Linked DNA regions of Homo sapiens. The protein of the gene in region 6 purifies or fractionates together with the protein of the main gene of each other region. This does not show direct contact. Each region holds a gene or a part of one and is shown on either strand. Other genes may lie near its edges.

Region 1 (5,027 bases), on a different chromosome or scaffold from region 6:
GCCTTATTCTCTGATCTCTGATTGTATGCAGGCCGACCAGAGACCAGGCAGGTACAAGGTACACCCAAGGTGGCAATGGACTTTTGGTGCCAATGCCATTGCAAATCTCATGTTTTAATATAGTGCATCCGAAAAACCCCGCCTCTCCCAAGGCTCTCCAAATGGTACACCTTCCCAAGGTTGCCTTTCTGTCTGGACTCCTCTTCAATCTCTGAAACAAATGTCCAAACACCTGTCAGATTTCAGTTGTCTTTCAAGGAAACCTGACCCAGAGAACCGGAGGCAAACTGCCTTTCTCTAAGAGCCTCCTGCCCCTCCCCCCACCCTGTCCGGCTTGGGGGGGAAAGGGCTGCCAAAATCATGGTCAGCCCCACAAAGATACTCCTACAGCCCACTGCAAAAATTCCTTTCCAGTGTCAATGGCCCCCTGGCATTGCCCATCCTTTGGAGGTTCAGACCCATCTATGAAACCACCTCTGGGGTCAGCCTGCCCCCATCTGCTCCACCCAAAGAAATGAACAACCTGCAAATCACGGTGGAAATACACGCCTCACCAGTCCACAGAGCATTTGCAGTGTGCTATTTTTCAAAGCCCTTACCTTTGACCTGAGTATCGTACTCTGCTATGATCTCCTTATCCTTTTTGAATTTGGCTGGAGACGTCATGTTTTCCTTCTTTCTTCCAAATTCGAATTGTGAATTGATAGATCCACGGAAAAAATCCAACCACCTAAATCAATACCTCCAAGACCGCTTCTCTCGAGGGCAGAAGGGGCCCCCCACGGTGGTCTCCAGCGCTCCGTGGAGCGCGGGCTGCGGGCTGGGCAGACGGCTACGGCGGGCACATGCAGACGGTGGGCGCTGGGGCCGGGTGCGGCGGCGGCTGGTGCCTGTGCTAGAGCCGGAGCCGCAGCCTCAGCATTAGCCGGGAGAACTGCAGCGCCCGGAGGCTGGCCTGGGGTCTGACATCAACGACACAGGCGGGGAGTGGAAGTCCTTCCGCACAACATGGTGTGGGGCTGCGGGGGTGTGGACGCGCCCAGCTGTGTCCCCGGGAGGGAGTGGGTGCTTTTCGGGGTGCCGGGGGAGGGCTGGGCGTGCTTCGCGGTTTTTTGTCGTAGAGGCTCAAAGATGCTGCAAATCAAATCCCAAACGGGAGCCGCAACAGCGCAGACTGGATCGGAAGTCGTTTGCTCCGGTTCACTTGCCTGTAAATGCAGGAAAAGGGGGAGGGGGCGATCAGCCAGAGCGCAGATCCTAATCGCGGCGGGGGTGGGGTAGGGGACGTCGTTCCGAGCCCGCCCTGGGCCCATTCCTGTCCGCTTAACGTCTCCCCGCCCGCAGAGCCTGGCGCTACGAGGTGGGGAGGAAGGAAGCTCCCTCCGGATTTTAAGGCTGAAAGAAAACACTTTGGAGCAGCCGCCTGCGCGGGCTCCGGGCGGGGACTGCAGGAACGCGGGGCACCAGGCGGGGACTGCGGCACCTCGGCGGCCTCCTGAGCCCCGCCAGCGCTGGGCAGCGGCCAGCCCGAGGGAGCCCTCCCGACCTAGCCCCCGACGTGGCCCCAGACCCCCGGCCGGGGCACCTCCCTGTACATCAAAGGGGATCAAAGCCGGGGAGGGATAAGCCACCAGGGCACAACTTTTCTTCCTCTCCCGCCCCTCCTCCCAGTTGTTTTGTTTTTGGTTACTAGCTTCTCTTGGCAGCAAAATGTTGATGGGGGGGGGGGCAAATCTGCAGGAAAAAGCCTGCTCGGCACGGGACACATCCAGGAAAACAATGTGGTCAGCTGAAGCAGGAAACGGGTTAGAGGATAGGGTCGGAGCCGGGAAAACCGGGGGGCGGCGAGCGGAAGGCAGCCGTCGCCTCCCTCAAGCTAGGGACGATAGTGACTATAAATGCCACCCCCAATATTTTTTTGACACCCAAGCTCAGAGATCCCAGATATCCCACCCAATCCCAGGCTGGGGATGGGAGGAGGTCGGTGAGGTCGCAGTCCTGACTCCTCGCACCAGGCGGTGCCCGAGAAGATCCGGCCCCGGACGAGGCCCAGGGGGCTGGAGGGACGCAAGCGGGAGCGCGGAGCCCGGCGACTAGCTCCCTCGCGTGCCGCAGCGGCGACCCTTTCTACTTGGTCTTTCCTTTTCCTCCGAGCGCCGGGAGGAGGAAGCTCCCGCTAGCGTCTCCCACTTCCCGCGGCTGGAGGAAGGGGCCACGCTGAGGGAACAAGACAGGGAGCAGAGGCGGCGGGGTTCAGGCGAGCGGGAAGCGGGAAGCGAGAGGCGGGTGTGAGATGGGGTCCTGAGGCTGGAAGGGAGCCCGGGGACAATTGGAGTTGCACACGCTCGGAAGGCGGGAGGCGGCAAGGAGAAGGCTGCCTTAGAGGTGAGGGGAATTGGGGCATGATCATGGGCCGCGATGTTGCGTGAAGCGCAAGGATGTCAGGAACTGTGGGGGCCGAGATGTGGTCTAGGGATGGGAGTGGGCGAAGAGAAGTCCATCGGGGCGGGCCGGGGGGTGGGACTCGGGGAGAGCCCCGGAAGCTGCGCGGAACACCCATCCTCCTGGGTCCTAGGCTGGGACCCGGGCTGTCCGCCAGGGCTGGGAGACACTGGAGGAGGCCGGCCGATGATTACGCGCGATGCCAACGACGACTGCCCTACGGTGGACCGCGGCTGCCCGTGTGCGGAGGAAAGGGAGAGGCGGCTGGGTGCCGGCTGCGCTGCGGTCCGTGAGCCAGGACGGAGTCCCAGGCTGTACAGTGATGGGCGGAGAGACTCGCAGTCCTGAGAAGTATTATGGGCTGTACTGGGAGATTTGGAGAGGGTGGAGGGGGGGCGGTCTGAGGGATTCCGGGCGGCACCGCTAAGGCGATGCCGCGAGCAGCATCCGCGCCCTCTCCTTCCCGCCCCAGCCCCGGTTTGTTCAGTCAGGGCTCCAGCCCGGCGGCCGGGAGGAAGAAAAGGAAGAGGGAAGGAGCCTTTACCTGGCTCTGACGCGACGGGTCCCAGGCCCCCGGCTCCGCTTCCCACTCAGAGCTCTCCTCCCCTCTCTTCCCCGCCACCCGTTTCTACGCAGATCGGTGCCCCAGTCCCTGGAGGAGCCTCCGCCAACTCCGCAGGACCCCGCCGGGAAGTAGAGCCCACCCCTTTACCAATCACCGCCCGTTTTCTATCGACCGATGGGGCCCATAGCCAATAGGAAGAGCTGATCCCGAGAGGCCCGGAATGAGGGGGAGGAGCTGGCAAAACTTGGAGGTGTGACTAGCACTGCCGAGGCGTGGTCACAGATTAAGCTCCACCCCGGGTTGTTGAACCCCTAAGTAGAACTGATGGGCGGGATTAAGGTGGAACCGACGACCAAACACAAACTCTTGAGCTAAGGCACGGCCAATTGGGCCGGGGTAGAGAGGAGGGGTGTTGCGGGGAGTTTTAACCAATAAAGAGTAGAGACCGGTGGAGACTGTAGAACCTCTTCCAATAAGAAGCGGGAAGGGCGTGCCTTGCCACTTTCACTAGGGCGAAGGCAGGGTTTGCCGAAACCTCCCGAAGCCGGCCAATGAGATCGGAGGCGGAGCCAAGCTCAGCCAACCAGAAAGCCGAATTGATCTCAGCACCGTTACTGGGGCGGTGCCTACGGTCTTCAAGCCACTAAGCTCTCGTGAGGGGAGGCCCCGGAGCCTTCCAATGAGGGACTGGGGCTAACTCTAGTTCTTCCAATCGGTGCGCGGCGCTGGCAATTCAAACTGATACCGGGTTGGAGAGGCAGGAAAAGCGGAAGAGGGAGCGAAAACCAACGTGTTCGGTGACAGACCCCAGCGCCGACTGAGCCTCTAAAGCGACTTCAGCTCTGCCCCACCAACACCACCGCGCGCCCGGGAACAGCCGCTCCGGGAAGAAACCTGAGGGGACTGCGGGGGGCACGAGGGACAGCTGAGGGAAGGGAGGACGCGAGAGAAACAGCGCGAGCACGCTGAGGGCCGGGGGTTGCCAGGAGAGGGGCCCGCGGACCCGCAGAGCGGAGGAAGGTCCGGGAGAAAAGGGGCGGGACGGAGGAGAATCCGGGATCGCCTGGCAGAAAAAGAGAAGGGAGTTTCTGAATCCTGGGAAGAGGAGGCGTGGGTAGGGACGCTTAGCCCGAGATCCGACAGCAGGGAACCGGAGCGCTCCGGGGGAGGGGCTTAATGCTGGGGAAGGGATGTCTTAAAAGAGGAGAAGCTTTAAATTAGACGATCGGAGAAGGCTGAGGGAATTGCTATGAAGGGGCGGGAGCTGAAGTGTAGAGGACTCCTTTAGACAGCAGAAAGGGAAAGCCGTTGAGAAGTTCCCTTCAAACTCCACCTGCCTCCTCTCCAATTCAAACTCCACTCCCTTCTCCAAAAGTTAAAAGGAAAGCCAAGTTTGCCACGCTCCCCTGTTCCTACTCAATAAATACTTCTTCTACTCCGCCACCGGGAAAACAGAAAAAAAAACTAATTTCCTTCCCAATATTAGGACTTAGAAAAGCTCTAGGTCCCGCAATTTGAATTTTAGCCTAGGGGAATCAAAATAGTAGGAGCATTACTCTTGTTTCCTTTTTCAAAATCCCACACCTCATCCTTCCTGCGACGCCATGTCTACCAACATTTGTAGTTTCAAGGACAGGTGCGTGTCCATCCTGTGTTGCAAATTCTGTAAACAAGTGCTCAGCTCTAGGGGAATGAAGGCTGTTTTGCTGGCTGATACTGAAATAGACCTTTTCTCTACAGACATCCCTCCTACCAAGTAAGTCATGCTAGTGGCGGGCAACGGTAGCTTTTAACTAAATGGGAACACTTATGGCTTGGATCTGTGGGAGTCAACAAGGAGGTTATCATTTCGGTGTTTCAGCCACTCCCACCAGTTTGATGATCCCCTTGGAATATATCTAAGTGGGCAGACTGTCTGGACAAAGTCTGTGGTTTAGCCAAGGTGGTCAGTCCTGATGTAATGCTTCTAGTTCAATTGCAGTCATGCGACCACACATCTCTTAAGTTTGATCCCTGGTTC
Region 2 (4,227 bases), on a different chromosome or scaffold from region 6:
ACCATGCCTGGCTAATTTTTTTGTATTTTTAGTAGAGACGAGGTTTCACTATGCTGGCCAGATTGGTCTTAAAACTCCTGACCTCATGATCCGCCCGCCTCGGCCTTCCAAAGTGCTAGGATTACAGGTGTGAACCCCCGCGCCCAGCAGGACTTTTTCAATTCATGAACTGTACTGCCCCATACTCAACAGCAATTTGACGCTCTAAACAACCTCAGCACCGGGATTAGCCCCATTCTGTGAATAAGGAAAACAGGTTAGACAAACAATCTAAGGTCACAAAGTGAGAGCAGAGAGAAGTACCCTGCCCATGTTCTAATTTAAATCCCATCACCTTCTCCCTTCACATTGATGTGCTGTTTCCCATGTTTTCACCAGCGAGGTACCAAAACTTACTTCCTTTCTTGAATCCCAGGCAAGGTAAGGCCATCCTCTCTCCTGGCCACTCCCTTAGATCACTCTGGACCAGCCAGGGAGGTTTTTGAGTCTGGACTGAGGCACCTGCTGAACCTCCAGTGGCCCCAACACCCTAATTACTCCCTTTGAGCTGTCTTGGGTTTTGCAAACAGGGGAACTCCCATCTGCCAAGCTCTCCATCTTAAAGAGGTTTTGTAGTTTCAGGCCGGCTGCTCCTCCTCCTCCTCCCACCCTGCCCACCTCCCAGAAAAGAGAATGGGTGCTCAGTAACAGCTATTAAGATTGCTTACTCCAGTTCAGGTCCCACTATAGACAGTGGGTGGGTCAGCAGAAAGACCCCGACCCTCAGGAGGTTCAGAGTTCAAGAAAGCTTGTGACTACCCTCTACCTCCCAAAGGGCCAAAAACCACTTCCTAAAAACCTTCCCCTACCTGGCAGGCACTCACTTCCGGGTTAGTATGAAACTCAAACTACCTGTGCAAAAGGAAAGGGGCCAGGCCAGCTGAAGGCTCCCGATGAAAGCTGCCTCCCACTCTCCCCTTCAAAGGGTGTCCTAATTGTGACCTTTCCTTAGAAGAAGAGAAAGTGATTCACACTATATTGCTTCTTGGCCTTTTGGCTAAGATCAAGTGCACAATAGGAAAAAGCCTTAAGTCTTATGTAATAGACTAACCTAACAGTTCTTAGGTGGGGGTGCACAATATATCCAGTTACACAGTTAAAAACAATCATAATACCATTATCACCCCTGACAAAATAAGATAATTTCTTAACTTAGTCAATTTCCTCAGTTGTCATCAAAATGTCTTTGGACATTTGGTCAAGAATCAAGATCCAAACAAGATCCACAACAATGCACGACTGATGTCTCAACTTTCTTCATCTGTAACAGTTCTTCCCTTTAAAAAATGCCATTTATTTATTGGAAATAGTGTGTCTTGTAGAATTTCTCACATTTAGAAACTGAATAACTGCCTACCTCATGGCTAATTAGTCTGTTCCTGTAGCCCCATTTCCCTATAAACTGGCAGTTGGATCTATGGTTCTGTTAGATTTAGGTTCAGTTTTTATTTGGTGGAGGAAATTTTCAGGCAGTGCTGTGTGCTTTCAGACACTGTAAGGCACATAATGTCTGGCTGCTCCATTATACACCCCCAAGCCATCGACTTAGGCTCCTGAAGCCAGAAGAGTTTCTCCAGCCTCCAGAGAGCTTGGATTCCTAATCACAACGCAAATACAAAGCTACACATATATAAAGCTCTACTTTGGTTTCTTTCTTTTGTGGGGAGGGAGTTTTAGAAAAAAATTTTTGATACTAGAAAAATTTTAAGACATTTAGACCTAGTCTAATACCCTGATTTTACAGACGAAGAAACAGGCACAGAGAAAGCAAAGCGTTTGCCGGTGTCCACATTGCTGGTCATGAGCAGGATCAGAAGTAGCTCCTAGGGCCGGGCGCGGTGGCTCACGCCTGTAATCCCAACCCAAAACTTTGGGAGGCCAAGGCAGGTGGATCACCTGAGGTCGGGAGTTTGAGACCAGCCTGACCAACATGGAGAAACCCCGTTCTACTAAAAATACAAAATTAGCCGGGCATGGTGGCACATGCCTGTAATCCCAGCTACTCTCAAGGCTGAGGCAGGAGAATCGCTTGAACCCGGGAGGTGGAGGTTGCAGTGGGCCGAGATCACACCACTGCACTCCAATCTGGGCGACAGAGCCAGACTGTCTCCAAAAAAACAAACAAACAAACAAACAAACAAACAAACAAACTTAGCCCAGCCTATCTTAAATGCACTCAGAACACTTATATTAGCCTACGGATGGCCATAGCATCTAACATAAAGCCTATTTTAAGCGTTTAATGTCTCATGTAATTAATTTATTGAATACTGTACTGAAAGTGAAAAACCATGGTTGTATGGGTACCTGAAGTACAGTTTCCAATAAATGTGTATCACTTTCCCAACAACATAAAGTCAAAAAATCATAAATTGAACCATCATAAGTTGGGGACTATCTGTACTCTCAAGTCTCACGGCACTACATGTGCACCAGCCACAGCAAACTTTCAGTCCAGTTAGGCTGGCTTTTCCTCATATCCCTGAGAGCACACGTGCAACTCCCCCCAAAGAAAATCTTTACAAAAGGCAAACTAAAAAGTTAAAACTTATTTTTTTAAAATTCATCTCACCACATTCCAAAGCAAAAAATAGCTAATTCTTAAGAGTCAGCAACCTTTAAATTATCCATCCATGCCCTTCATGTCTGTGGATAAGCAAAAGTCAAGTTTTAAGGAGACAGATCCCATACATTTCACGGAGTACTTATATAACACAAGAAAAGGAAAGATCTGCATTCACCAACCCCATCATATTACAGGTAGAGAAAACCAGAGACCCAGGGAAAAGTCCCACCAAGACCCAGAGTAAGTAACAATGTCTACCTGCCAGGCACTGGGCTAAATACACTTATCATAACAATGAATGCTGGTAATACCCCCATGAGGCAGGTGAATCATAAATACCTATTACACAAATTAAGAAGGTGAGGCATAGAATGGTTAAATAACTTGCCCAAGGAAGCACAGCTAACAAGTGGTACAGTGGCATTTGAACCCACTCAGTTTGACCCCAGAATATTCGCTATGTATCATCTCTTAACTTAGACGTCTTGGATCTTATACTTAAAAGGGGTATGGCTAGGATAAGACAAAAATTTTAAACATTTAAAAATACTCTGGGGAGGGAGGGAGATCTAAAAAACCAAAATGCAAATCCCAAGACTTAAAACTACAAATGTAAGACTTGGACGCTTAAACCAGAATACAGAACCCCACAAGAAAGTAGAGATATCACGAAACATATTTTATTACTAGTTACTGCATGTGTCCCTTAAAGAACTAAAACACCAACATTTGAGCCAAAAGTAAGGCTAAAAATAGGCATTTACAGCAAGCTTTGGAAAGCTTTTAGTTTGCTTATGAGGTACTCATTTCTGTAGACTCCCAAAAACATGTGCATCACAGAACACAAAAATTCCCAAGACCACACAGCCACTCCACTAGTGTCACGTTTAAATTTGTCGAAGCTGTAAATAAAACCAGGGCTGGAAAAGCACTTCAGAGATCCACGTAGGCTCCAGAGAAAGGGTCATCATCTAGCCTTACCAGACTGACAACCCAATCATAGAATTCTCTCTCAAAATGCACACAAACCCTAACAACAGGCTTAGAGAGAGAAGCTACTGGATTAACTTGAGTTAGGCTGTCAAAACCTATTCCAAAGGTTCTAAACCAACAAGTAGACACTCTCTTGCCTTAAGATTCCAAAAAACAATAACAGAGCAAATCTACCCTTACTCAGAATTTTGCTTTGGGCACTTAAAGCAAGTCAGCTTCTCCACTCAGAGGAAAAGGTGAGATGCCAGCCAAGCTGTCTTCTTCCCACGATCAATAACCCCAGTGACGCACACTATCAAGGGCTCCTGGACTTACACAAAATGCCAGCTCAGGCACCCAATACCACCTGATGTCACGGTTGATTTAAAACCCACAAGGTAGGTTCACCATTAGCCAAGCCAGGATGAGTAGCCCCATTTAAAAGGAGTGCTCTCTCCCGGGGATGATTATACCCTTTTGAGTTTAAAGAGGGGAGAAGGACCAAAGAGTGTTTTAAAGTTGTTTTCCTTCACTCTGTGGGTGGATAGGAGGGACTGAAAGAAAACGGAGGTTTCAGCACTGTCTTTTGCATAAAAGGGCTCTGGAAGGGAAAGGGGGGAAGGGGAGGAGGGGGGAAGGGGAGGAAGGGG
Region 3 (4,227 bases), on a different chromosome or scaffold from region 6:
TTGGAGAAAGATTTTAAGGACTTAACTAAGTTATGAAAGATCTAAAATCTGATAGGAATAGAAGAAAAAGAGAAGAATTAAACAAGGGGTCGGGCACGGTGGCTCATTCCTGTATAATTCCAGCACTTTGGGAGGCTGAGGCGGGAGGATCGCTTGAGCCCAGGAGTTTGAGACCAGCCTGGGATAGAGAAAAAAAGAAAAGAAAAAAAAAAATTAGCCAGGTGTGGTGGCATGTGCCTATAGTCCCAGCTACTGGTGAGGCTGAGTGGGAGGATCACTTGAGCACAGGAGGTAGAGGCTGCAGTGAGCCATGATTTTTCCACTGCACTACAGCCTGAGGCACAGAGTGAGAGTCTGTCTCCAAAAAAAAAAAGAAAAGAAAAATAGAGAAATATAAGTTAAAATAAAATGTGCTTTTAAAACTTATCTGTGAATAAAGCTTTAACCTTGTTCCAAAGTCATTGTATTTCTTTCATAAACTACTTGTGAACTTCATTTTCAAATTTTAATATATTTGATCAAAGTATACACAGAACATAGATGAATATTCATTTTCTAGAATCATACATTTCATAACAATGGTTTCCTATGTAGTTATACTCTCTGGCTTTATAATTTGAAATGTTCTAATTAATAAAAAATTGTGGGGGAGCCTCTGTCATTGAATAATTTTTACATACAGGGATCTTTCTTCATATATTTTAACAATGTAAGGAGAACTTGTTAAAGTATCTTTTAACAATCTATTCTATCCTGTAATTAAAACCATTTCATTAATACAAACTTTTCCCCTTCATAACATTCTGTACTTTTTAAATTTCTTTAAAATAAACTGTATGACATACAATTTCAGAAAAGAATTCTGATGAGGGAAAGAAACTGAGTGGATACTTAAATTGGCACCGCTTTTGGCAGGCAACTTGGTGCCATATATCAAAGGCAAAAAATATATATATGCACATCTCTTGACCTAGCAATTCCACTTCTAAGAATATGTGTTTAAAGAAAATAAACAGAAAAAAAAAAAAAAGAAAGAAAGAAAGAAAAAATAAACAGCTGGGCATGGTGGCTCACGCCTGTTATCCCAGCACTTTGGGAGGCCAAGGTGGGCAGATTACTTGAGTCCAGGAGTTCATGACCAGCCTGGACAACATAGTGAAACATCGTCTCTACAAAAAGAAAAAAAAAAAACTAGCCAGATGTGATGGTGCATGTCTGTAGTCCTAGCTACTCGGGAGGCTGCGGTGGGAGGATTGCTTGAGCCCAGAGGTAGAGGCGATTGTGCCACTGCACTCAAGCCTGGGGAATAGAGCAAGACTCTGTATCAAAAAATGAAAGAAAAGAAACAAATTTGTGGAATTTGAAGGATACTGCATACTCCAACCTCAAGGCCTAAGCAGTTCTATCCTCTATGCCTGAAAAGGAATTCATCTTTCAGATATCTACATGGCTTTATCCCTAATTTGATTCTAATCTTTGCTCAAATGTTACCTTATCAGAGTTCTTCCCTAATTATTCTTAAAAATAGCACCTCTCCAGCCCCCTCATTCTTTTTTTTTTTTTTCCCACCCAGGCTGGAGTACAGTGACACAACCACAGCTCACTGCAGCCTCAACCTCCTCAGCTCAAGTAATCCTCCTGCCTCAGCTTCCTGAGTAGCTGGGACTACAGGTGCATGCCATCACACCCAGCTATTTTTTTTTCATTTTTTGTAGAGACTGGGTCTCACTATGTTGGCAGGGCTGGTCTTAAACTCCTAGACTCAAGCAATCCTCCTGCCTCAGCCTCCCAAAGTGCTGGGATTACAGGCTGTGCCTGGCCCAACTCCATCACTCTTATTTTTCTTCATGTTTCACCACCTGACATAGTATAGACATTGTGTGTGTGTGTGTGTGTGTGTGTGTGTGTGTGTGTGTGTGTGTGTGTGTGTGTGTGTTGTACATATATCTCCTCTCCTACATCCCTCCCCCCATTTTAATGTAGGAAGCAGAGACTTTGTTTTGTTCAATGTCCAATCTCTAGCACTTTGGATGGTGTGTGAAATATAATGGCAAGGGAAAGTTGCTGAATGAATAAACAAACATAGCATCATTTCATACTAGTGAAACACCAGAGATAATCTAAATTTCCAGCAGGGATCAATTAAGTGAGTAATAGTTAGCTGATGCCTTCCAAATGAATCAGGTTAAGAGGAAGTTAAAGCAGATGCTAGAAATTTTGGTTACTGCTGCATCACCAGGGATATTCTTAGGTTCCACTAAACATTCAGACCCAAAGGACCACTACAGGTGACACCTGGCCCAGTCCATTCGGGAAGATGAAAGACAGAACCACAGCAGGCTGGCAGGGCAGCCTTGGGTCTCCTTCTCAGTGGGAGTTATTGTAGTGTTCATGCAGGTGACACTTCACACAGTCAATCATCTTAGAGTAAGGATATGAGATCTGCAAGCTGCCTGGCTTACTGCCCCACAGCAGCCAGTATCTCTTGTAACAGGGCCACATGCAGTTTCCAGGGTCCCTGCAAAAGACGTGCAGTAAGAAGAATCACTGCATTTAAGTCCTAAATATGGTATCCCCATCAGGTACCCGTAGTTCTCCCAGGCCAGATGCAATCTATGAATTAGGGGTCAATTTTGTCATGACAATGTTGCCTATAGTATAGCTGAAATTCTACAGTTATCAGGTACCAGATGTACCTGATAAGCAGATTATACTTTCAGAAAATAGTGACAGCATTACTTCTGGTTCCACATGCTCTTCCAACACATTGCCATATATCCATCAAAAGGGAGATCTATCTTCCCTCCCTGAAAACCAGGGGAAACTTTGTGACTGCCTTGATGAACAGAACAAGATAGAGGTAACACACTGCAACTTCTGAGGCTAGATCAAATAATGTGATACAGCTTTCACTTCCATCTCTCAAGACATTTGTCTGCGGAACCCAGCTACCAGGCAAGAAACCCAGGCCACATGGAAAGGCCATGGGTAAGTGTACTGGCCAAGAGCCCTAGCTAAAGCCTCAGCCAACAGCCAGTATCAACTACTGGAAAAGGGCCCTCAGACGATTCCAGATCCCAGCCCGGAATCTAGCTTAGCTAAAGATGAGTAGAGAAGACACAAGCTCTCCACCTGGGACCCTGGCTCCCAAACTGTGTCCTAAGGTACTCTGGGGCAGCACAGGAAAATACAACCATGTCAATAATGATGTAAATTAGGCAGTTCACAGTAACATTACAGCAGTCCCTTCATATCTGCAGGGGTTGGGGGGAGGTGGGGCCGTGGGATACAGGCATTGTTTCCAGGAACAGCTCTGGCCCCCACCAGGATGGATGCACAAGCCCCTTACATAAAATGGCAGAGTACCTGCATATAAGTAATGCACATCCTCCGAATACTTTTAAATTATCTCTAGATTACTTATAATACCTAATTATGTAAGTAGTTATATTGTATTTTTTTTTAATATTTTCAATCAGAAATTGGTTGAATCTGTGGATACAGAACCTGCACATACAGAGGACCAACTGTATATTGCTCCATTCCTATCAATGACATTATATCTTTGTCAAGATTGTTTCTCAGGAGTGGTTGTGATAAAAACAAATATCCCAGGAAAATCAATGTGGAACAAGGGTAAACACGGTAATGTCCAATCTTATTACAAGGCTAGGTCATTAAAAAGAAAATACAACTTTCTCTTGGCTCACTTTCTCTTGAGACACCCGCCCTGGAACCCAGCCACCATGCAGGGATAAAGCCCAGCCCACAAAGAAAGCCACATGTAGGTGTTTCTGCTAATAAGGTCTCAGCTGACAGCCAGCAGCAACTGCCAGACCTATGAGTGAGCAAACTTCAGACAATTCCAGCCTCAGACTTCTAAGTCTTCCAACTGAGGCCCCAGACATCACAGAGCACAGATTGGCCTTCCCCCACTGTGTTCTAGTCAAATCGCTAACCCACAGAATCTGTGAGCATAATGAATGAATGTTTTATGCCACTAAGTTTGGGAGGTAGTGTAGCCATGGTAACCATATCAATGAAGGTTCAATATTTAATACAAACAAAGAAAAGCAGTCTATGTATGAAGCAATGATGACAGTGTCTCATGAAGCAAAGATCATGACTAACCTAATCCCGTGCACCTTGGAGTCCTTGAAAAAGAGGGAGGGGAGGAAAAAATCATTAAAAGACACCTTTTTAAAACTCAAAACAAATGTACCTCAT
Region 4 (4,227 bases), on a different chromosome or scaffold from region 6:
AAGGGATACTCAATCTGTACAAGATGAGAGATTCTGAATTGTTTTCAGAAATAAATTTTTATTATCAGGTAATTATATATATTCCATTACCTTACTGGAGAGAACTAATAATTTTCAATTATCCAAATGAAAGGTAGTCAAATGCCTATCTTTCCCCTATTTCTTCCTTTTCCTTCTCCAGAATAGGAAAATTCACTAAGATGTTCATTTAGTTTAAGGAAAGAGGCTATCGTCACAGAAGACACACACACACACACACACACACACACACACTGAACAAATTAAAACTATCTAATCTACTGTATGACTACCATATACAAGTAACTATGTTAGGTGCTTAAACATCTTCTTGAACCCTCACAACAATCCTGCATGGTAGATTATCACTCTCTTTCCCACAGCGCCCCCCAGTCTTTTTAACCTGAAGAAACTAAAACCCATGAAAGGTTAAGTAACTTGTCAACGTCAAATAGCCAAAAATGGCTGAAACCTACAAACCTGTGCCTGGCAATGACTTCCAGTACAATGCTGAGTAACAGTGGTGAGAGTGAATGTCTTGTTCTCAATACTGGAGGACAGCATGTCTGTGGTGTTTTTCTAGACACTCTTTATCAGATTAGGAAATTCCCTTTTAGTTCTTGTTTGCTGACTTATTATGAATGGGTGACAAATTTTGTCAAATGCCCTTTCACATCTATTAAATTGGTTGTAGTTTTCCTCCTATATTCTGTTCATATACACTGATTTTATTTCAGATTCTGAGCATTCTTTTTCATTAAAAATTGTATGACTTACATATAGTAAAATTCACCACTTTTAGTGTTAAGTTCTTTGTGTTTAAAAAAAAGAACAGTCATTTAACCACCACCAAAATCAAGTTCCATCACCCCTGAAGCCACTAAAAACTGGACACAAGTTTCTCTGTGAACATAAATTTTCCTAGAAATGGCACAGCTGGGTTATATATTAAGTACATGTTAATTTTATCTGCCAAACTTTCCCAAAGTGAATGTGGCACTCTGCATTCCCATGAGCAATGTGGAGCAGTTAGAACTGCTCCATGTCTCTCAATTGATTTTTAAAAAGTCAATCTATTGATTGTGCAGTGGCATCTCACTGTGGTTTTTATTTGCATTTTCCTAATGACTAATGATGTTCAACATCTTTTCATGTGCATATTTGCTATCCAATTATCTTCTCTGGCAAAGTGTCTATTCAAAACTTTCGCTCCTTTAAAAATTGATGGTTTAGATACAGGGTTTTTTTGTTTGTTTTTTGTTTTTTTTTTTGAGATGGAGTCTTGCTCTGTCGCCAGGCTGGAGTGCAGTGGGGCAATCTCCGCTCACTGCAACCTCTGCCTCCTGGGTTCAAGTGATTCTCCTGCCTCAGCCTCTTGAGTAGCTGGGACTACAGGCACGCACCACTATGCCCGCTAATTTTTTATATTTTAGTAGAGACGGGGTTTCACCATGTTGGCCAGGATAGTCTCAATCTCCTGACCTCATGATCTGCCCACCTTGGCCTCCCAAAGTGCTGGGATAACAGGCGTGAGCCACCGCTCCCAGCCTAGATACAGGATTTTTTAGGTTGTTCAAGAGTTTTTAAAATATGCTGGTTTGTCTTTTTATTCTCTTTATAGTGTCTTTAAAGAACATAAGTTCTTAATTTTGATAAGGTCCAATTAATCAATTTTTCCTTTCATGGATAACGCTTTTAGTGTGCTATCTAAGAAATCTTTGCCTAATCCAAGGTCAGAAAGATTCCTGTTTTCTTCTAGAGGTACTTAGAAGTTTACATCTATGATTCATTTTAAGCTAACTTTTGTATAAGGTGAGGTGTTTGAATTGAGGTTCTTTTTTGCATATGGACATCCAGTTGTCCCAGCACCATTTGTTAAAAAGATAATTTTTTCTTTGATCAGCTGCCTTTGTACTTTTGTTAATTAACTGATCATATAAAAGCACACATAAATTTTTTAATTTTTTTTTTAAATAAAAAGAAGTGAGAGATAACAAAAGAGGTGAGGTCCTGCTATGTTGCCCAGGCTGGTCTCGAACTCCTGGGCTCAAGTGATCCCCCCACCTAGGCCTCCCAAAGTGCTGAGATTACAGGCCTCAGCCACCATGCCCAGCCAACATAAAGTTATGACTGTTAAACCAAACTGGCATTCCATACACTCCACTTGGTCATGCTTTATTATCCTTTTTATACATTGTTGGATTTGAAAAACATATTAATTGTTTTATCTATGCTAATCACATATTTGGTCAGTAATTTGCTTTTTTACAAAAACATGTCTTTGTTGGGTTTTCTTATCAGGGTTATGATGGCCTCATAAAATTAGTCATGCACTGCATAACATTTCAGTAAACAATAGATTGCATATATAGCAGCAGTGCTGTTAAGATTATAATACTGTATTTTTACTGTATCTTTTCTGTGTTTAGGTACACAAATATTTACCATTGTGTTACAACTACCTAATCAGTATAGTAACATGCTGTACAGGTTTGTAGCCTAGGAATAATAGAGTATACTAAACAACCTATGTGTGTATAGGCTATAAGGTCTATGTAAGCAGCACACTCTATGAAATTTGCATGATAAGACATTTTTCAGAATGTATCTTTGTCATTAAGCACCACATGACTGTATTTCGAAAGTGTTCCCGCCTCCTTAACTTTTTTTTTTTTGGTGGGAGACAGTCTTGCTCTGTTGCTCAGGCTGTAATACAGCAGTGTGATCACAGCTCACTACAGCCTCAAACTCCTGGGCTCAAGCCGTCCTCCCACCTCAGCCTCCCAAGTAGCTGGAACTACTTTACAGGTACACACCACCACACCCAGCTAATTTTTTAAAATTTTTATAGAGATGGGGTCTCCCTATATTGCCAGGCTGGTCTTGAAATCCTGACCTCAAGCGATCCTCCTGTCTCAGCATCCGAAATTGCTGGAATTATAAGTGTGAGCCACCGTGCCTGGCCTACCTCCTTAACTTTCTGAAATTTTATTATGACTCATCTTATTTCTGCCTTAAATGTCTGATACAACTCATCAATTTAACCATCTGGCCTAGAGTTTTCCTTTTTTTTGAGACAGGGTCTTAGTCACCCAGGCTGGAGTGTAGTGGCATGACCTCGGCTTACTGCAGACTTGTTCTCCTGGCCTCAAGCAATCCTCCAACCTCAGCTTCTCTAGTAGCTGGAACTGACTAGAGGTGCACAACACCATGCCTGGGTAATTTTTCTACTTTCTGTAGAGATGAGGTTTCGTCATGTTTCCAGGCTGGTCTTGAACTCCTGGGCTCAAGCAATCTGCCCACCTCAACCTCCCAAAGTGCTGGAATTACAGACATGAACCACTGTGCTGGTCAGGACCGAATTTTCTTGATGAAAAGATTTTTTACAATAAATTCAATTTCTCTAACATATAGGACACTCAAAATTTCTATTTTATATTGGTCAGTTTCAGTAAGTAAAATTTTGCAAGGAATTCACTAATTTCACCTGATTTGTTGAGATGATTGGCATAAAATTGGTAATGATATTCCCTTATTAGCCTTTTAATGTCTGTAGCATCTGCAGTGATAGCCCCATTCTCATTCCAGATTGGTAATTTGTGTTATTTCCTTTTCTTCATCAGCCTAACTAGGGGTTTATCAATTTTGCTCTTTTTTAAAAAAACAAAAAACAAGTTTTTAACTTTGATACTGTTCTCTGATTTTCTGGTACTCTATTTTCACCGATTATCTTATCCTTATTATTTCTTTTCTTCTACTTACTTTGTGTTGGGAGAAAGCCCCCTAAAATCTAGCCATAAACTGGCCCCAAGACTGGCCATAAACAAAATCTCTGCAGCACTGCGACATGTCCATAATGGTCCTAACGCCCAAGCTGGAAGGTTGTGGGTTTACAGGAATGAGGGCAAGGAACACCTGGCCCGCCCAGGGCAGAAAACTGCTTAAAGGCATTCTTAAGCCACAAACAAAAGCATGAGTGATCTGTGTCTTAAGGACGTGTTCCTGCTGCAATTAATTCGGCCCATCCCTTCATTTCCCATAAGGGATACTTTTAGTTAATTTAGTATCTATAGAAACAATGCTAATGACTGGTTTGCTGTTAATAAATATGTGGGTAAATCTCTGTTCGGGGCTCTCAGCTCTGAAGGCTGTGAGACCCCTGATTTCCCACTTCACACCCCTATATTTGTGTGTGTGTGTCTTTAATTC
Region 5 (4,227 bases), on a different chromosome or scaffold from region 6:
TCTAGTTTACGCTTTTCTCTATATTTATCTAAAGACATTTTCTGAGGAATTATTCCTGGAGTAGTGGAAATTGGCCCATGGTGTTTACTGCTCCCTGCTTTATGAGTATATTCTTGCTTAACAGAAGAATGATCTGAAATTTTGTCAGGTCTGTGATGTAATCCTGAATGCAGTGATATAGAAGGTCCCTGCTGGAAGTTGATGTTGTACTGGCTACCAGACAAAGATGTCTCCTGTTTCTGTGAATATAGCTGTTCTGTCCTTGCTGAGTCTTGATGTTGAGGCCATTCCTGGTGTGATGATAAACCGTATGAAGTACTTGGCATTCCTGTTGCTAGCATTGACAAATTATCAGATGTATGGCTGTCTTGAACAGAAATATTTCCTGAATTTAGAGGTACTGGCGCAGGGAATGCTGATGTAGATGGTTTCTGAAAACTTGGGTTTGTAGGCACACCAGTGACACTATCTACTAAAATGGAATTCTGGACCAAAGATGAACCAAGAAGTGGTGTCTCTGATACCTGTCCATCTACTTTTGGTTTCCTAGCTGCCTGATTAGCCTATTAAAATAAAACACAGAAGAAGCAGTGATATAGCAAAATAATTTAATGCAAATTTCTTGTCTTATAAAAGTTATATATTAAAAACATTATATATTAAACATATGGAAATAAAATGACCTGGGGTTCAAGATTTTATGTTGTCAGTAAATAAATGCCTTAGAGGCATAAAAGGCTATAAAAAATTGAAAACACCCATTTTAGAATCAGATACAAGTTAAATCCTAGCCCAGCACTTCAGAAAGTAATTTAACTTGTCTAGGCTTCAGTTTCCCCATTTGTAAAATGAAGAGGATACTTTTGTCATAATCACTGCAAAAAATTTTTTAAAAGTATAATGTACTTTAGCAAAGTCCACTGGACTCAGTAGTTGAATATGTGAGTATATGTAACTTGAGATACGTTGAATTATTCAGGAATACTGCAAAGATTATTTAACCACAAAAATTCAAACTGGTTAGCTATGTAAATGTTACATAAAAGACTGAAATTCTGTTAAACCCTGTCAATTCTCTTACCCTCCAGTTTCGAATCTTCTTCAACCTATTAGGCGTTTTCTCCAATATTTGTAGAAACTCATGTGTTAGCTCTAAAAATAAAATTTAAATTTGAAACTTAGAAGGTGCCTTTAGGATTTAAATTTCTCTTAAGTGGGCAGTATTAAAAAGGAATGCTAGGAGTTCATCTACTTCACTTTTACCCTCCTATTAAATCCTCAGCATACACAGAAGTACACACAACTCTCAACCGGCATTTTCAAAGCTGAATCCTTTTGTAACGATTACTTTCCCTCTTGATTTTACTTGCTTAATTAGAATCTCTAGAAAATCTAGTAGCATTAAAAATAATCACCCCCCCAATAAAAAAAAAATCTTCATTAGGCAAACACCACAATAATTTTTGTCACAGACAAGATCTATCAAAAGATTCTTTAAAATTAGTGGACAAAAGTTTGAGGAAAAACGTTATTTGTATAATCCCAACGTATCTTCCCCATGAAATGTATTAATTACAAAGAGAAAAAAAATAGTGACTTTAAAGTGCAGAAACCACTTTAAGGATACCACTGTAACCAAGTGATCACGGTTGTCATGACCAGTTATAAGACGTATCAACATACTGTACCCCTTGATATGATGCACCAAGCAAGACCCAATTTACTTCTATGGTATTCTTGCTCAAAATGGATAACTTCGACATAATAATGAGAAATCATCAGACAAACCCCAACTAAGGAACACTGTATAAAATGACCATTATTCTCCTAAGTGTCAGTGTTATGAAAGACAAGGAAAGATTGGAGAACTGTCACAGACTGGAGAAGACTTGAAGGGACATGTCAACTAAATGGAACATGGGATCCTAGAATAGGGAAAAATATGGAATACTGAATAACATCTGTGGTTTAGTTAACAGTATTGTACCAATGTTAACTTCCTAGTTTTGATAATCATATATTGTTATGTAAGATGTTAGTACCAGGAGAAGCTAAAGGGTATACAGGGAACTATGCAATATTTTGCATTTCTTTCTTTCTTTTTTTTGTTAAATAACAGAGACAGGGTCTCGCTATGTTGACCAGGCTGGTCTCAAACTCCTGGCCTCAAGTGATCCTCCTATCTTGGCCTCCCAAAGTGCTGGAATTACAGGTGTGAGCCACCACACCCAGACTTTTTTTTTAAAGGGGAAAATTCCTCCAAATATACTTCCTAGCTATCAACACTATTAATATATTAGCAAACTATCTTCATTGTAAATTTCTACCAACTTTCTTAAAATTCTGATTACAATCAAATGACCCACTTTTCCAAAGTAGTGTGGTTTTGATGAACTAATAATGTCATTAATAGTTACTAGCCACTCTCAAATATTCATCAGTCAAATACATCAGAATATTATATAATATTAATAATGCCAATTCCACCTCAATACTGGGGGAACCTCTATTAATAGAGACTACAGGTTCATTTTGTAATAGCAAGCTTTTTTGTAAACTATTCTAAGCCAATGTTAAGATCGACACTTCAGACAAGCTATAATTTAACCATTAATCTTTCAAGATGTAATTTCCTTGACAATGTCATGACTAGTCCCTGCTAAAGTCTCATGAGCTTTTTCATCCAGTTTGGATGAAAAAAACCCTAATGCCCAGACCTTTACTTCCTCATTTGAAAAAAAAAGAAAAAAAAAAAGACTATTTTTCTACTTTTGGGTCCAACATTAACAAAACTGTTTTGACTCAATTTCTGTTAACAACTTGGTTGTAAAACATTAAATACACTTCAAGTTCTGGTCCAAAATCTCGTACACAAAATGTAAGCTTTGTTTTTCTTAAGTATCCTACTGTATTAAATTTTATAGCAGAACAACAAAAGAATCTGTTAAATAATCCATTAACATAATTAATTAGCTATATGCACAAAAATCACAGTATGTGCCTAAAATAGAGGCCCTTCTCTCTCAAAGCTACTGTCTAAGCCAATGTTCTTTTCTGGAACACAATCATTAAGTGAATTATTTCAGTAAGTAATAAGAATAGTAGTATCACTTCACTCTACAATTCAGATAAATCTTCATGTCTTTTTTTTTCCCCCCAGACAGGGTTTCCTCTGTTGCCCAGGCTGGAGAGCAGTAGCATTATCACAGCTCACTACAACCTTGACGTCTCAGGCTCAGGTGATCCTCCCACCTTAGCCTCCACAGTAGTTGGGTCTATAGGAGTGCGCCACCATGCCCGGTTTGTGTGTATTTTTAGTAGAAACGTGGTTTTGCCATGTTGCTCAGGCTGGGCTCAAACTCCTGTGCTCAAGATATGTGAGTGACTGCACCCGGCCACACCTTCATGTCTTTAATTTTGAATTGCCTTTTTGTGACTGACACAGAAAAAAAAGCTGCTGCAAAACATGGTGAAAGTCTTAACATATCAGTTCTCCAAGATTCCTATTCAATTGCTCTCCAAATTAACAAACTTTACTTTTCAGAATGGAAATGAGGTAGCTCCTCCTGTGTCAAAAAACCCCACATAAACCACAACCTAACCTCTGACCTAAAGACAGGATAAAAGGCAGATTACTTTTCTGTGATCTTTTTACTTCAGCACCAGGTATATAAACTATTTTTATTACGATTATGCCTACTGGCTGGGTGTGGTGGTTCACGCCTGTAATCCTAACACTTTGAGGCCAAGGTGGGTGGATCATGAGGTCAGGAGTTCAAGACCAGCCTGGCCAACATGGTGAAAACCCTATCTCTACTAAAAATACAAAAATTAGCCAGGCGTGGTGGCAGGCACCTGTAATCCCAGCTACTCAGGAGGCTGAGGCAGAGAACTGCTTGAACCCGGGAGGCGGAGGGTGCAGCGAGCCGAGATTGCGCCACCGCACTCTATAGCCTGGGCGACTGAGACTCTGTCCCCCACCCCCCCCCCGAAAAAAAAATTTTGCCTACCTAATCTTAATCTAGTGACTATTAAACTAAAACAATGACCTAGATAACCTGATTTTTCAAGCTATAGAACAGATAAGCCCTCACTGAGTTTTAGATGTCATTTCAACTCATTGAAGACTTCCTTTCCTCTGGATAAACTCTGAAAAAGCCTCTAACAATTTAAGAAAAACATTATAATCATGCAGCAATAATACAGCATGAGATATATATTCTGGGA
Region 6 (4,227 bases):
GCTATGTTGCCCAGGCTGGTCTTGAACTCCTGGCTTCAGAGGATCCTCCCACCTTGGCCTTCCAAAGCACTGGGGTTACTGGCGTGAGCCACCATGCCTGGCCAGCAGTAGTGTCAATAATAAGGAATGTTAGTTGAGGGGTGATTCCCTCCTGGGCCTTGAAGACCTGGCTAAGGGCCATGGGGGAACCCAGCTGGGGGCAGAGTGGGAGTGGCCATGTCCAACATCCCATCCTTCTCCAGAACGGGCTGCGAGTGTGATTTAGGCTGGGCAGGTGGCTTAGCGCGGGGCCCTGGGCAGCCACCTACCCTGTCCCCTTTTCCCCCCACAGCTGCCGCAGCGGGAACCGCAAGAGCTTGGTGGTAGGAACGCCCTCCCCGACCCTCTCCCGGCCCCTGTCGCCATTGTCGGTCCCAACGGGTGAGTGTGGGAGCAGCCAGCGGGTGCTGTGTCCTGCCTCTGCCCCGCTGACTCAGTTTCCCCGCCTCCTCCTCAGCAGGCAGCAGCCCCTTGGATAGTCCTCGGAATTTCTCGGCTGCCTCTGCCCTAAATTTCCCCTTTGCCCGGAGGTGAGTGATTGCCGGCTTTGGGAGACAGTGCGGGCACCACGGGCAAGGGTTGGGCAGGGGCACGTGCTCGGTGGCTAGACCTGGCTCCTCATTCATTTCATTCACCTTTTCCCCTCCCCTGGCCCGTCTGGTGGTGGTCTCCCCCTCTGGCTCCCATTCCCGGCAAATGCATGCCATCTTGCAGCCACATCCCACGCATGGACAGGTAATTTCAACCAGCCCAGGGGGTGGGGGGTCATGGGGGGATATAGCCCTAAGAATCATTAACTCACTAAAGAAATCATTCATTCATTCACTTAACAAGAGCTGATTGAGCACCTGTCATGTGCCAGACGCTTGCATTTCATTTATTTATTCATACAACAACATTCATTAAGCACCCACTGTGTGTATGCTCTGTGCTGCGGGCTGAGGGCATGGTCGCAAATGGGCAGCTGGCCCTGAGCCCCTGGGGAGTCCTCCGTTTGGTGGGGGGTGGTCAATGTGTGCCCCAGAAGCTACAGCTCAGAGGTTGAAGCTTTGACAGGGGACACAGTGGCAGCTGGACTCACGGGGGGGCTTCCTGGAAGAGGTACCTAAAGAGAGAGAGCATGCAGTGGACTTGGTCAGCCTGTGTCTCTGTTCTTGGTTATTTTCAGGAGATCCTTCCTACAACAGGGCCAGAATATGCTGGCCACAGTGTCTGTTCTTAGTCCCCACAAACCACAGGGGCCAGGCCTTCCTTCCATCTGTTCTTGTTCCCCTCTCCAGGGCAGACGGCAGAAGATGGTCCCTCGCGTCTCTCCCATCTTCCGGCTATGGAACCAACACACCCAGCTCCACCCTCTCGGTACCCATAGCCCCACCTTGGCAGGTGGACAGGCAGATGCCGGGTTGTGGGGGGACACATCTTTGTGTGTTTTTTTCAAGGTGTTGGATAGTTGTGCAGTCAGCAAACATACTAGTTACTTCCTCCATGCACGCCCCATTCTGGGAAATGCAGGGTCCCCTGAGAAGACCCAGCCTTGGCCCCAAAATAGTCCCTGGTTGGGGAGATACAGATATCCTCAGCCTATGGGGTCAGGGCCTGACCAGAGGGGGACTTGGGGCTGCCCAGGGGTACAGGCAGAGAGGACTTCCTGGAGGAGAGGGCATCAGAGCTAGGGTTTTGAGGGATGCATAGGAGCTAGGCAGGAGAAAGGATGTTACCTTCTGATGGCCAGCAGGCAGCCTGGGCCTTGAGGGGTGGTGCTGGGTTCCTGGCCACAGCACTGACGGTGAACTCATGGCTCTGATCCCCACCACTCTCTACCAGTCAAGCTCATCCTCCCGGGAACGTCTCCACCAGCTTCCCTTCCAGCCGACGCCGGACGAGCTGCACTTCCTGTCCAAGCACTTCCGCAGCTCAGAGAATGTGCTTGATGAGGAAGGCGGCCGGTCACCCCGCCTCCGACCCCGCTCTCGCAGTCTCAGGTGGGCCGCGACCTCTGGCCCCAGCCCCGGCCCCTCCCTGGGCTGGTGTGGAGGCCCAAGTTGTGGCTCCTCCTTCACCCCAGCCCTGACCCTGCCTGAGCCTAGCCTCTGATTCTTGTCCCTCAACCCTGGCTCAGATCCCCCAACATCCTCCCCTGGGGTTGGTCTCAGGTCCCATATCACAAGCCAGCTGTCTTCCTTTCAGCCCGGGCCGTGCAACGGGGACCTTCGACAATGAGATTGTCATGATGAATCACGTGTACCGGGAGAGGTTCCCCAAGGTGGGCAGCGCCTGGCGGCTGGACCAGCCCCTGCACTTCTTTCCACATTGCTGTCCCTCCATGGAACTCTGTCTTCCTGGCTATGTCCCCTTTGCCAGTCTGTTCATTTCTGTCTTTCCTTCCCCTTCCGTTGAAAGATGTCGTTCCTCCTGCACCAGCCCTCCCACCCGATCGCCCCATTGCCCCATCTCCTCTCTCCCCAACCATGCCTCTCCTGCCCCATTCTGCGTGTGTCACTCCAGCCCCGCCCTCTGACCAGGTCGCCCCGTCTCGCCCCACCCAGGCCACAGCACAGATGGAGGGCCGTCTGCAGGAGTTCCTGACGGCCTACGCGCCCGGCGCCCGGCTGGCGCTGGCTGATGGCGTCTTGGGCTTCATCCACCACCAGATCGTCGAGCTGGCCCGAGACTGCTTGGCCAAGTCTGGCGAGAACCTCGTCACCTCCCGCTACTTCCTAGAGATGCAGGAGAAGCTGGAGCGGCTTCTGCAGGATGTGCGTGGTTTTTCGCATGTTGAGGTTTTGCATGCAGTGGGACGTGGAGTGAGGGGGGTCCCCAGGCCAGACGGTGCTGAGGACCTGTGGGTGATGCCACGACCCACCTCCCCCAGGCCCATGAGCGTTCGGACAGTGAGGAGGTCAGCTTCATCGTCCAGCTTGTCCGGAAACTGCTGATCATCATCTCACGGCCAGCTCGGCTGCTGGAGTGTCTGGTAAGTTTCTCTTTCTACGGCCAGCTTGGGGTCCAGGCAGAACTGAGATTGGGACCACAACAGTCCTGCCAAGATACAGGTGACAGTTCCCATCGTGTAGGGCTTTGAGAGGAACACAGGGTGCTATTGGGCTAGCGTGGGCTTCCCTAAGGAGGCAGCGGGAGTGGAGACCCAGTGGGTGAGCTGGGAAGGGTGCTCCAGGCAGAGGGAACAGCATGTGCAGAGGCCTGCAGGTGGAACCAAGCCCTGGGTGACCAGCCCTCCTGTGCCCCTAGGAGTTTGACCCTGAGGAATTTTACCACCTGCTGGAGGCGGCTGAGGGCCATGCGCGGGAGGGCCAAGGCATTAAGACTGACCTTCCACAGTACATCATTGGGCAGCTGGGCCTGGCCAAGGACCCCCTGGAGGGTAAGCCGGGATGGGAAGAGGAAACCAAGGCTGGGAAAGGCCGGATGGAGGCCAGGCACGGTGGCTCACACCTTTAATACCAGCACTTTGGGAAGCTAAGGCGGGCAGATCACTTGAGGCCAGGAGTTCGAGACCAGCCTGGCCAACATGGTGGAAACCCCCCCCCTACTAAAAATACAAAAATTAGCTAAGTGTGGTGGCGCATGCCTGTAATCCCAGCTACTCAGGAGGCTGAGGCACAAGAATTGCTTGAACTCAGGAGATGGAGGTTGCAGTGAGCTGAGATCGCGCCACTGCACTCCAACCTGGGCGACAGAGCGAGACCCTGTCTCAAAAAAACAAAAAAAGAAAGGGCAGATGAAGCCAGGATTCAAACCCAGGCCCATCCGATTCCAGAACCACCGCACTGTTCTTTGTCTCTCTGTGGCCTTGCTCTTAGGTCACCTGTGGGAATTATGCTGAGACCCTCTGATCTTTTGGGGCCCAGGGGCCTCAGTGTCCTCAAATGCCACGTTAAGATGGTCAGGAAGCCTGGGGACCAGTGTTAGCAGTGGCCTTCCCTTTGTCCTGCAAATTCACAAATGACTTTACCAATTTCTGTGGCCTTTACTGTGGCCCAGAAAGTGAACTTGGAGTCAAACAGGACAACCCGTAGGTAAGAAGACGGTCAAAAACTCCCACAGCCGGCCGGGTGCGGTGGCTCACGCCTGTAATCCCAGCACTTTTGGGAGGCCGAGGTGGGTGGATCACAAGGTCAGGAGTTCAAGACCAGCCAGGACAACATGGTGAAACCCCATCTCTACTAA
Region 7 (4,227 bases), on a different chromosome or scaffold from region 6:
TCCATGTCTTGATTGGTTTGGTGGTTACACAGGTATATACATTTGTTATTGAACTGTGTGCTTTAACATGGATACAATTAAAAAAAAATTGTACCTCAATAAATTTGGTTAAAAATTTGCTAACCAAGGGTGGGCGCAGTGGCTCATGCCTGTAATCCTAGCACTTTGGGAGGCTGAGGTGGGCGGATTGCCTGAGCTCAGGAGTTCGAGACCAGCCCAGGCAACATGGTGAGGAAACCTCGTCTCTACTAAAATACAATTAGCCAGGCATGGTGGCATGTGCCTGTAGTCCCAGCTACTGGGGTGGCTGAGGGAGGAGAATCGCTTGAACCCGGGAGGCAGAGGTTGCAGTAAGCCAAGATTGTGCCACTGCACTCCAGCCTGGGCAACAGAAAATGTGTCAACTCTTGGGCAAATAGGTGCTGATTTCATGGCATACAAAGCAAATTGACTTCTGGTATAAATCTTCTGTAGCTATAAGAACTTCACGTATGCATGTATGTATTACAGAAAAATCCTTTGACACTTAAATGTAGGGGGAAAAAACACCTCTACTTGAGTATTTGGGTTAGTTAAGGCTTTATTGAACTTTCTTGCGTATGTTTTTTTCTTACTCTTCAGTGGCCCGAACCTGTAACTTGATCTTGATTGTTCTGGATGTCCTGAAACCTTTGGGACATAAGAAGATAATTGAAAATGAGCTGGAAGGCTTTGGCATTCGCTTGAACAGCAAACCCCCCAACATTGGCTTTAAGAAGAAGGACAAGGGAGGCATTAATCTCACAGCCACTGTAAGTGGGGAATATGACATGGGGCAGGCTGCTGCAGGAATTGGAATGGGGAGTGGATTGGGGTGCATGGACCCTGACATTGGAAAATTTCCTGGCTTTTCCCTGCACTAATTGAGATAACACAATGACTTTATAATGACTGACAAGAAAAACTTCAAGATTAGGATAGGAGCCAGTCTCAGACTTACCTTTGCTACTTATTTCCTCTTTTGGATTATCTATTGGGAATGATATGGGCGTGTGGACCAATATTATGCTTGCATAAAGTAGATGGCCGCCAATATCTTCTGTTTTCATTCATTTAACACAAATTTATAGAGTGCCTACCACGGGCCAAGCATTATTTTAGGCTCTGGGCAGGAATGGAAGAGGGAATAGTGAAACCCCCTGCTTTTATATTCTAATTGGATAGAATAGAAAACAATGTTAATGAGTAAAATATAATGTATTCGTCAATGATAAATATAAGAACACAAAGTAGGGAAAGGAGATAAGAGTGTTGGTGTGAGGGTTGCAGTTTTAAGAACGTTGGTCAGGGAAGTCTTTACTGAGGTGACATGAAGGTGTGAACCAAGTGGATATCTTGAAGAAGAGCATTTGCTTCATGCCTCAACCTCCTGAGTAGCTGGGATTACAGGTGCCTGCCATCGCACCCAGCTAACTTTTGTATTTTTAGTAGAGACGGGGTTTCACCATGTTGGCCAGGCTGGTCGGTTTCATTCTGTTGCTTAGGCTGGAGTACAGTGGCACAATCATAGTTCACTGTTAGCTCAAAACTCTTGGGCTCAAGTGACCCTCCTGCCTCAGCCTTCTAAGTAGCTAGGGCTAAGTCACATGCCTCCAGGCTTGGCTAATTTTTTTTTTTTTTTTTTTTTTTGGTAGAAACGGAGATTTGCCATGTTGCCCAGGCTGGTCTTGAACTTTTGGCCTCAAGCTGTCTCCTGCTTCGGTCTCCCAAAGTGTTGGGATTACAGGTATGAGCCACCATACCCAGCCATGTTTTTTATTTCCTGAGCTAAAAAAAAAATGAACTCTTATTACTAAAATGGTAGGACTTTTGGTAGAATAGATTTGGAGGGAAGGAGAAGATCAGGATGTTAAATTTTAGATGCCAGTGAGACATCCAGGTATTTCAGTCAAGAGGGCATGTGGGGTAGGCTGGGCATGGTGGCTCATGCCTGTACATCTATAATCCCAGCACTTTGGGAGGTTGAGGCAGGAGGATCACTTGAGCCCAGGAGTTCAAGACCAGCTTGGGCAACAAAGTGAGACCCCATCTCTATAAAAATAATAAAGAAGGCATGAGGAATTATCTAGGCTGGATATATAAATTTGGTGATTATCAACTTTAATGTCATGGGCCTAACTGAGATCACCAAGGATGTGAGTATAGATAGAAAAGAAAAGAGAGCTGGGTGCAGTGGCTCACACCTGTAATCCCAGTACTTTGGGAGTCCGAGGTGGGCGGATCACAAGGTCAAGAGATGGAGACCATCCTGGCCAACATGGTGAAACCCTGTATCTACTAAAAACACAAAAATTAGCCGGGCATGGTGGCACGCACTTGTAATCTCAGCTACTCGGGAGGCTGAGGCAGGAGAATCGAACCCAAGAGGTGGAGGTTGCAGTGAGCCGAGATGACGCCACTGCACTCCAGCCTGGTGACAGAGCGGGACTCCGTCTCAAAAAAAAAAAGAAAGAAAGAAAGAAAAGAAAAGAGAATCGGCCAGGCACGGTGGCTTACGCCTGTAATCCCAACACTTTGGGAGGCCGAAGTGGGCAGATTACATGAGGTCAGGAGTTGGAGGCCAGCCTGACCAACATGGCAAAACCCTGTCTGTACTAAAAATACAAAAATTAGCCAGGCGTGGTGGCACGTGCCTGTGATCCTGGTACTTCGGAGGCTGAGGCAGGAGAATTGCTTGAACCCAGGAGGCGGAGGTTGCAGTGAGCTGAGATCGCGCCACTGCACTCCAGCCTGGGCAACAAGAGCAAAACTCCGTCTCAAAAGAAAAAAAAGAAAGAAAAGAGACTCAGAGAAATAAGACTTCTTAGACCAAGAGAGAGAAGGAAAACTGAAAGAGTTTGAAATACTGGAAGCCAAGTAAAGTGTTTCACATAGGAGTGACCAATTCTGTCAAATGCTGCTTCTCTGTCAGAATTGAGGACTGAGAGTTTCCTACTAAATTTAACACTTCAGAGCCCAGATGATTTGACTGGCATAGGTTTCAGCTGTCCTGCCCAAAACATCTTTCCCATTATCCCGTCTTAATATTCAAATTTGAACATTTAAGATTATTTCTGTGTTAGTTTCAGTGCTGCCATAATACGGTACCACAGATGGGTGGCTTAAATAACAGAAATTTATTTTTCATAATTCTAGAGGCTAGAAGTCTGAGATGAAGTTGATGGCAGGGTTGATTTCTTCTGAGGCTTCTGTCCTTGGCTTACAGATGGGACTTCATATGGTGTTTGCTCTGTGTGTCTGTGTCCTAATCTCCTTTTCTTATTAGGACCACCAGTATTGGATTATGGCCCCACCCTAATGACCTTATTCTAATTTGATTACCGCTTTAAAGACCCTATCTCCAAATACATCACATTCTGAGATACTGAGGTTAAGACTTCATGTGAATTATTTGGTGGGGGAAGGAGGAACACAGTTCAGCGTGTAACACCTTCCTTGGAGTTTGGACATTTATTTCCTACTAAAAGTCAGTGACACTCATCCCGGATGTATTTAGTAATGAGTTTGCATCTTAGCTAGAATTTTCCAGGTACATGGATATTGGTACACTTGACAAGTATTTTTTTTAAATTTTGTGCTGACTAGTCATCTGCTATTCCCTTTCAGTGCCCCCAGAGTGAGCTGGATGCTGAAACTGTGAAGAGCATTCTGGCTGAATACAAGATTCATAATGCCGATGTGACTCTACGTAGTGATGCTACAGCTGATGACCTCATTGATGTGGTGGAAGGAAACAGGTACTGACTGAGTGTGCAGTCTGTGCCTGACTGAATTGGAAGCCTTGTGATGGAAACAGTATTGGATCTTGAATCTGGCAGAAGTTTATCTTAATTCCAGTTGTCCTACTGTCTTTTTTTTTTTTTTTTTTTTTGAGATGGAGTCTCACTCTGTTGCCCAGGCTAGAGTGCAGTGGCGTGATCTCAGCTCACTGCAAGCTCCACCTCCCAGGTTCAAGAGATTCTTCTGCCTCAGCCTCCCGAGTAGCTAGGATTACAGGTGCGCACCACCACGCCCAGCTAATTTTTGTATTTTTAGTAGAGATGGGGTTTCATCATGTTGGCCAGGCTGGTCTTGAACTCCTGACCTCAAGTGATCCGTCTGCCTCGGCCTCCCAAAATGTTGGGATTACAGGCATGAGCCACTGTGTCCAGCCTGTGCTACTATCTTAAATGATAGTGGGCTTTGGTT

What was found.
Region 1: the proteins of MAST3 (region 6) and SRGAP2 purify together in Homo sapiens (affinity purification with mass spectrometry, with the first as the bait; one large-scale study listed by BioGRID). This does not show direct contact.
Region 2: the proteins of MAST3 (region 6) and LARP1 purify together in Homo sapiens (affinity purification with mass spectrometry, with the first as the bait; one large-scale study listed by BioGRID). This does not show direct contact.
Region 3: the proteins of MAST3 (region 6) and MRPS31 purify together in Homo sapiens (affinity purification with mass spectrometry; one large-scale study listed by BioGRID and IntAct). This does not show direct contact.
Region 4: the proteins of MAST3 (region 6) and EIF2S1 purify together in Homo sapiens (affinity purification with mass spectrometry; one large-scale study listed by BioGRID and IntAct). This does not show direct contact.
Region 5: the proteins of MAST3 (region 6) and CCNT2 purify together in Homo sapiens (affinity purification with mass spectrometry, with the first as the bait; one large-scale study listed by BioGRID). This does not show direct contact.
Region 7: the proteins of MAST3 (region 6) and DRG1 purify together in Homo sapiens (affinity purification with mass spectrometry; one large-scale study listed by BioGRID and IntAct). This does not show direct contact.

Annotation. Positions count from the first base shown.
Region 1 is NC_000001.11:206,201,610-206,206,636, reverse strand, and holds the start of SRGAP2 (SLIT-ROBO Rho GTPase-activating protein 2), read right to left. Parts: upstream 3,097-5,027; 5' UTR 2,987-3,096; intron 2,794-2,986; coding exon of another isoform or gene 2,642-2,793; exon of another isoform or gene 2,530-2,641; intron 2,386-2,529; exon of another isoform or gene 1,924-2,385; intron 1,209-1,923; 5' UTR 667-1,208; coding exon 600-666; intron 1-599. Other genes in the region: protein FAM72A, read left to right, coding at 4,612-4,763. UniProt on the Homo sapiens protein: Postsynaptic RAC1 GTPase activating protein (GAP) that plays a key role in neuronal morphogenesis and migration mainly during development of the cerebral cortex. Regulates excitatory and inhibitory synapse maturation and density in cortical pyramidal neurons.
Region 2 is NC_000005.10:154,757,882-154,762,108, reverse strand, and holds part of LARP1 (la-related protein 1), read right to left. Parts: intron 1-4,227. UniProt on the Homo sapiens protein: RNA-binding protein that regulates the translation of specific target mRNA species downstream of the mTORC1 complex, in function of growth signals and nutrient availability.
Region 3 is NC_000013.11:40,760,906-40,765,132, forward strand, and holds part of MRPS31 (small ribosomal subunit protein mS31), read right to left. Parts: intron 1-4,227.
Region 4 is NC_000014.9:67,369,889-67,374,115, reverse strand, and holds part of EIF2S1 (eukaryotic translation initiation factor 2 subunit 1), read right to left. Parts: intron 1-4,227. UniProt on the Homo sapiens protein: Member of the eIF2 complex that functions in the early steps of protein synthesis by forming a ternary complex with GTP and initiator tRNA. This complex binds to a 40S ribosomal subunit, followed by mRNA binding to form a 43S pre-initiation complex (43S PIC).
Region 5 is NC_000002.12:134,949,566-134,953,792, reverse strand, and holds part of CCNT2 (cyclin-T2), read right to left. Parts: intron 1,153-4,227; coding exon 1,082-1,152; intron 564-1,081; coding exon 1-563. UniProt on the Homo sapiens protein: Regulatory subunit of the cyclin-dependent kinase pair (CDK9/cyclin T) complex, also called positive transcription elongation factor B (P-TEFB), which is proposed to facilitate the transition from abortive to production elongation by phosphorylating the CTD (carboxy-terminal domain) of the large subunit of RNA polymerase II (RNAP II).
Region 6 is NC_000019.10:18,121,354-18,125,580, forward strand, and holds part of MAST3 (microtubule-associated serine/threonine-protein kinase 3), read left to right. Parts: intron 1-331; coding exon 332-420; intron 421-496; coding exon of another isoform or gene 497-499; coding exon 500-569; intron 570-753; coding exon of another isoform or gene 754-774; intron 775-1,319; coding exon 1,320-1,398; intron 1,399-1,863; coding exon 1,864-2,021; intron 2,022-2,226; coding exon 2,227-2,302; intron 2,303-2,585; coding exon 2,586-2,795; intron 2,796-2,911; coding exon 2,912-3,013; intron 3,014-3,288; coding exon 3,289-3,421; intron 3,422-4,227.
Region 7 is NC_000022.11:31,419,635-31,423,861, forward strand, and holds part of DRG1 (developmentally-regulated GTP-binding protein 1), read left to right. Parts: intron 1-621; coding exon 622-791; intron 792-3,645; coding exon 3,646-3,776; intron 3,777-4,227. UniProt on the Homo sapiens protein: Catalyzes the conversion of GTP to GDP through hydrolysis of the gamma-phosphate bond in GTP. Appears to have an intrinsic GTPase activity that is stimulated by ZC3H15/DFRP1 binding likely by increasing the affinity for the potassium ions.